Linked DNA regions of Homo sapiens: region 2 is linked to region 1. A link means that fine-mapping ties the variant in region 1 to the expression of a gene that starts in the linked region. Tissue or cell type: whole blood. Region 1 holds a variant in brackets; the other region holds the start of a gene. All regions are shown on one strand. Distances are between the middles of the regions.

Region 1 (2,757 bases):
GCCCATGAGATCAATATACTTTGTGAGTCACTGCTCTGGGGAAATGGTGACCATGGTGAGGGTGCTGGGCATCTCAGGGAAGCCCCATGATGGAGAACCTAGGGGGTCAGAGGCAGTACTTGTATGTTCAGACCAGCATCCAGTGTGAGAAGAGTCTGTTTCTGGGGCTAGGGTCCGCCATCACCCTGGGGCTTAACGATGAGAGGCCTACTCCAGAGAGGGATTTTTCCAGATGACCAGGCTTAGGAGGGGACTGTGGGCCGGGCTCCAGACCTTATATACTGGCATCTTAGGGGCTTAAGAGCAGGAATTGAGGCAGAAGTGAGTATCCCAGCTGTGGCTCCCAGGCAAAGGAGAATCCACTATAATCAATGCTGAGCTCTAGAGCTGATTAAGTGCCACCAAAGGCTGGGTTAGGTGCTGAGCCTGTAGATGGTGGGGAGCAGATGGCTCTGGCTCTGAGGGTGGAGTCTGGAAACTGGGTGCACTGGCCTGTGAGGTGAAATTCTCCCTCTGCCCTGCCACAGGGATTTAGATATGCAGGAGCTGGACAAGAGAGTTAATAAGGAACTAAAAATACATTTTTTGTCTTTTTGAGATGGAGTCTCACGCTGTCACCTGGGCTGGAGTGCCATGGCTCGATCTCGGCTCACTGCAACCTCCGCCTCCCGGGTTCAAGCGATCCTTGTGCCTCAACCTCTGAGTAGCTGGGATTACAGGCATGCACTACCACGCCTGGCTAATTTTTGTAATTTTATTTATTTATTTATGTATTTATTTATTTTTGAAATGGAGTTTCGCTCTTGTTGCCCAGGCTGGAGTGCAATAGCGCAATCTCGGCTCACCACAACCTCTGCCTCCCGGGTTCAAGCGATTCTCCTGCCTGAGCCTCCCGAGTAGCTGGGATTACAGGCATGCGCCACCACGCCCGGCTTATTTTGTATTTTTAGTAGAGACAGGGTTTCTCCATGTTGGTCAGGCTGGTCTCAAACTCCCGACCTCAGGTGATCCCCCTGCCTTGGCCTCCCAAAGTGCTGGGATTACGGGTGTGAACCACTGTGCCTGGCCTAATTTTTGTATTTTTAGTAGAGACAGGGTTTTGCCGTGTTGGCCAGGCTGGTCTTGAATCCCTGACCTCAGTGATCCACCCGCCTTGGCCTCCCAAAATATTGGGATTATAGGCATGAGCCACTGCGCCTGGCCTAAAAATACATTTGCTGAGTGCCTACTGTGCGCTAGATGCTGGGGATGCAACCATGAAAACACAGCCAAGGTCTCAGGCCTCATGGAGCTTACAGTCCAGTGGGAGATGAATTATAAGAAGCTAACACACAGATGCATGTCACCCACTGCAGTATGAGTGCT[C/G]AAAGGATAAATGTAGGTCAGGTGGGGAGGGCAGGTAGGAGAGTGCAAGATGAGAGGATTTGATCTCATCAGGGGAAGTTTCTCTGAGGCAGTGAAACTTGAGCCTCCTCCGTAAGGAATAGTGGACCAAGAAGTGAAGGACGACACACACATATCTAGCCGGGGGGAGCAGCATGTACAAAGGCCTGGGGGTGGGCTGAGGCTGGGGACAGGGCAGGGTCAGGCCACCCAGTGCCATGCAGGCTACCGCCAAGAGTTTGCTTTCACCGGAGAGTGAAGGGAAGACGTTGGAGGGCTTCCACCTGGGAGTATCCCCTGTTTTGGCCACTATATGGACTGGGGGGCTGGGCCTGTGAGGTTCCAGATGTCAACTGAGTAGGACAGGAAGACACTTCAGGAATCCGAAGGGATTTGGGAAGTGACCAAGGTTTTCTCTTCCCATCTGTTGCTACTATCTACCTGAAGTCTTGAGTTTCACAATTTTCATGCAGTTTCTTCTTGGTTGTGCAACTCTTGACAGTTTCTAACTTTGGGTTTGGCATCTCGGCCAGAGTCATTTCCTTCCTGGAGCTGGGCTCTCATTGAGTGGAAAATTTGGGGCTGCTATGTAAAATGAAACAGAAGAGAATGAACCCTTCCTCTCCGGAAGGGGCCGGGCTGTGCCAGGTCCAGACAGGGCTTGTGTGTCTGCTCTCTTGGAAGGCTGCCCTGCCTCCGCCCCTTTCCAGCTGCTAGGGCACAACAGAACATGCCTACATCCAGACCCTGCCCACTGCAGACTTGCCACTGGAGGCGACACTGTTTTGGGCCAAAACCACAGGCCAGGGGTCAGAGCACCTGGGTTCTAGTAATAGCTTGTGTTTAGCACCTGATATGTGCCAGGTAAGCATCTTTTCTCACAACTCTTATTATCCCTATTTTATAGAAGAGGAAACTGAGGCTCAGAGATTAAGTAATTTCCCAAGGCCACATAGCCCATAGTGATGAGGCCAACATGGGAATTCAGGTCTGCCTGACCTTACCCGCTTCTTGGTAGGTTACTAGATTGCATCATCACTTGCCCCATCTGGAAAATGGGTAAAGACATTGCCCTATCTACTTTTCTTGTAGACTGGGAAGGTTCAAAGCATACGAGATGGTGAGGTTTTCTTTGTTTCTTTTTTTTTTTTTTTTTGTGAGACAGAGTCTCACTCTGTTGTCCAGGCTGAAGTGCAGTGGCATGAGCTTGGCTCACTGCAACCTCTGCCTCGTGGACTCAAGCAATTATCCTGCCTCAGCCTCCCGAGTAGCTGGGACTACTGGCGCCCACCACCACGCCCAGCTAGAGGTTTTCTTAAAGTTAATTGCTGAGTGGCTAAGGACAGGTCACTTGACCTTTTCCTTCCATGCATT
Region 2 (2,628 bases), 24 kb before region 1:
CCGTCTCAAAAAAAAAAAGTTTTTTGTAGAGATAAGATCTTCCTATGTTGCCCAGGCTTCTACTTTCATTCTCCAACATAGCTTATCTGCCTATTTTTATTGCTTGTTGTCTGTCTCCCTCCAGGACAAGGATTTTGTCCTTCTCTTCAGAGGTATTCCCAGCACCTACAACAGTGCCTGGCACATAGTAGCTGCACGATACATATTAGCTACTATAGTAAAGTCTACCTGACTACCCTATTTAATAGAATATTCCCCATGCTCAATCTGAATTCCTGATTCCCTTTAACCAACTTTTTTTCCTTTTTTTTTTTTTTTGCAATAGTGCTTATTACCTTTAAGACACTCTGTAACATACTATATTTATTATTTATTGTTAGTCTTTCTCTCCACACCTAGATTGTAAGTCTTATGAAAGCAAGGGCTTTTGTAGGCTTTTTTTTTTTTTTTTTTTTTTTTTTGAGACAGAGCCTCACTCTTCACCCAGGCTGGAGTACAAGGGCACAATCTGGGCTTACTGCAACCTCCGCCTCCAGGGTTCAAGCGATTCTTCTGCCTCAGCCTCCCAGGTAGCTGGGACTACAGGCGTGCGCCACCGTGCCCGGCTAATTTTTGTATTTTTAGTAGTGACGGGGTTTCACCATATTGGCCAGGCTAGTCTCGAACTCCTGACCTCGTGATCCGTCCGCCTCGGCCTCCCAAAGTACTGGGATTACAGGAGTGATCCACCGCGCCCGGCTGTAGGGTTTCTTATTCAGGTATTACCAACACCTAGGGAGTTGCCTGGCATACAGTAGGTAATTAATGGAGTATTTGATGAGCGCATGATGCATGGTGTAGTGCCGATGGAAGTGGGGTCAGAAGGCCTCCTGCCGCTGCGGCAGAATTCCCGTGTGGCCTTCTCCCACCAGGGCCTCAGTTTCCCCTCGCAGTTCCGATTCTCTGGCCGGCGCTGGGGTGGAGCCGGCGGGGCCGTCGTGCCGCCCGTGGCCGCTGGGGACGCTGGTGCCCTCCCGCCCCGCCCACTTCCCCGCCGGTCCGCCCCTGGCTAGAGAAGCCGCAGCCCGCAGTGTCCGACCCAGTCGTCCCGCGCCGGAGCCGGCCCCGTAGCGTGCCATGGCCTGCTACATCTACCAGCTGCCCTCCTGGGTGCTGGACGACCTGTGCCGCAACATGGACGCGCTCAGCGAGTGGGACTGGATGGAGTTCGGTGAGTGCGGCCCGGGGAGGGGAGGGGACCAGGGCGACCGGAGCCCCCAGCGATCCCGCCTGGAGCGGCCGCCAAGCTCCCTCGGGCACCCGGGTTCAGCGGGTCCCGATCCGAGGGCGTGCGAGCTGAGCCTCCTGGACCGGGTCCGCCGCGGACCTCGGCCTGTCACCTGAAGGTGCCGCGTGGTCTCTGAGGACGTCTGTCGACGAGCAGGGGCCGCCGCCACTGCGCTCTGAGTCCAGAGAACGGTGGGTACGGGGGCCCTCCTGTCAGCGCTGCTGGCTCGGTGACGTCCCCAGGTGGCCTCTCATCCAGCCCACAACAGCCTGCAAAGTGCGAGCCTCGACCCTGTAGGGACCCACGGTGCTGTCACTTCTTGGGGGGGTGTGTGTGTGTGTGTGTGTGGTGTGTTTAGTTTTAGTGTATATTAGAAGGATCTATGATTTAACATATATATATATATTGAAACGGAGTTTCGCTGTTGTTGCCCAGGCTGGAGTGCAATGGCACGGTCTCGGCTCACTGCAACCTCCACCTCTGGGATTCAAGCGATTTTCCTGCCTCGGCCTCCCGAGTAGCTGGGATTACAGGCGCCCGCTACCACCCTGGCTAATTTTTTGTATTTTCAGTAGAGACCGGGTTTCACCATGTTGGCCAGACTGGTCTTGAACTATTTTTTTTTTTTTTTTTTTTTTTTTTTAAGACGGAGTCTCACTCTGTCGCCCAGGCTGGAGTGCAGTGGCGCGATCTAGGCTCGTTGCAAGCTCCGCCTCCCGGGTTCACGCCATTCTCCTGCCTCAGCCTTCTGAGTAGCTGGGACTACAGGCGCCCGCCACCACGCCCGGCTAACTTTGTATTCTTAGTAGAGACGGGGTTTCACCGTGTTAGCCAGGATGGTCTGGATCTCCTGACCTTGTGATCCGCCCACCCTGGGCCTCCCAAAGTGCTGGGATTACAGGCATGAGCCACCGCGCCCGGCCTCCGGAACTCTTGATCTCAGGCGATCCACCTGCTTCGGCCTCCCAAAGTGCTGGGATTACAGGCGTGAGCCACTGTGCCCAGCCTATTTATCATATTTGTGATTAAATGTACTTTACCATTATAGTTTTAAAATCAGATATTTACTTTTAGTGTACATTGTTTTGATCACAGTATTTATGACTATCAACCTGTTTTGAGATCAGATGTGTCCTAATAGATTCAGTGTGTATAATGGGGCCTAAGCACAAGCACTTACTTTCACTCTATTGCAAGGTGCACAGTTCTAGATAATTCCGTGGGAAGGCACTCAGACAGCCTCCATATGTTTTGTTTGTTGGTGCCTGACGGATGACTGGCGGAGAGGGCCATGGACTCTGCGGGGAGGCCGCTTGCCTGTTGTCTCTGCTTTCCAGGTGGAGATCTGCATTCCAGGCTCT

What was found. PIP is the estimated chance that this variant, and not a neighbour inherited with it, causes the effect.
Region 2: it holds the start of IRAK2, and the variant in region 1 is fine-mapped to the expression of IRAK2 in whole blood (TOPMed, PIP 0.97).

What each region holds. Positions count from the first base shown.
Region 1 is chr3:10,187,758-10,190,514 of GRCh38, forward strand. All of the region lies in intron 2 of IRAK2 (interleukin 1 receptor associated kinase 2), which reads left to right. Among named protein-coding and RNA genes, the nearest start is that of IRAK2, 24 kb to the left of the region's middle. RefSeq lists an enhancer at 1,846-1,925. The variant C/G (reference allele first, on the strand shown) is at 1,366.
Region 2 is chr3:10,163,839-10,166,466 of GRCh38, forward strand. It overlaps IRAK2 (interleukin 1 receptor associated kinase 2), which reads left to right and starts at 1,081. Exons shown (of 13, transcript NM_001570.4): 1 at 1,081-1,210. The coding sequence starts at 1,117. RefSeq lists silencers at 916-1,045, 1,246-1,395.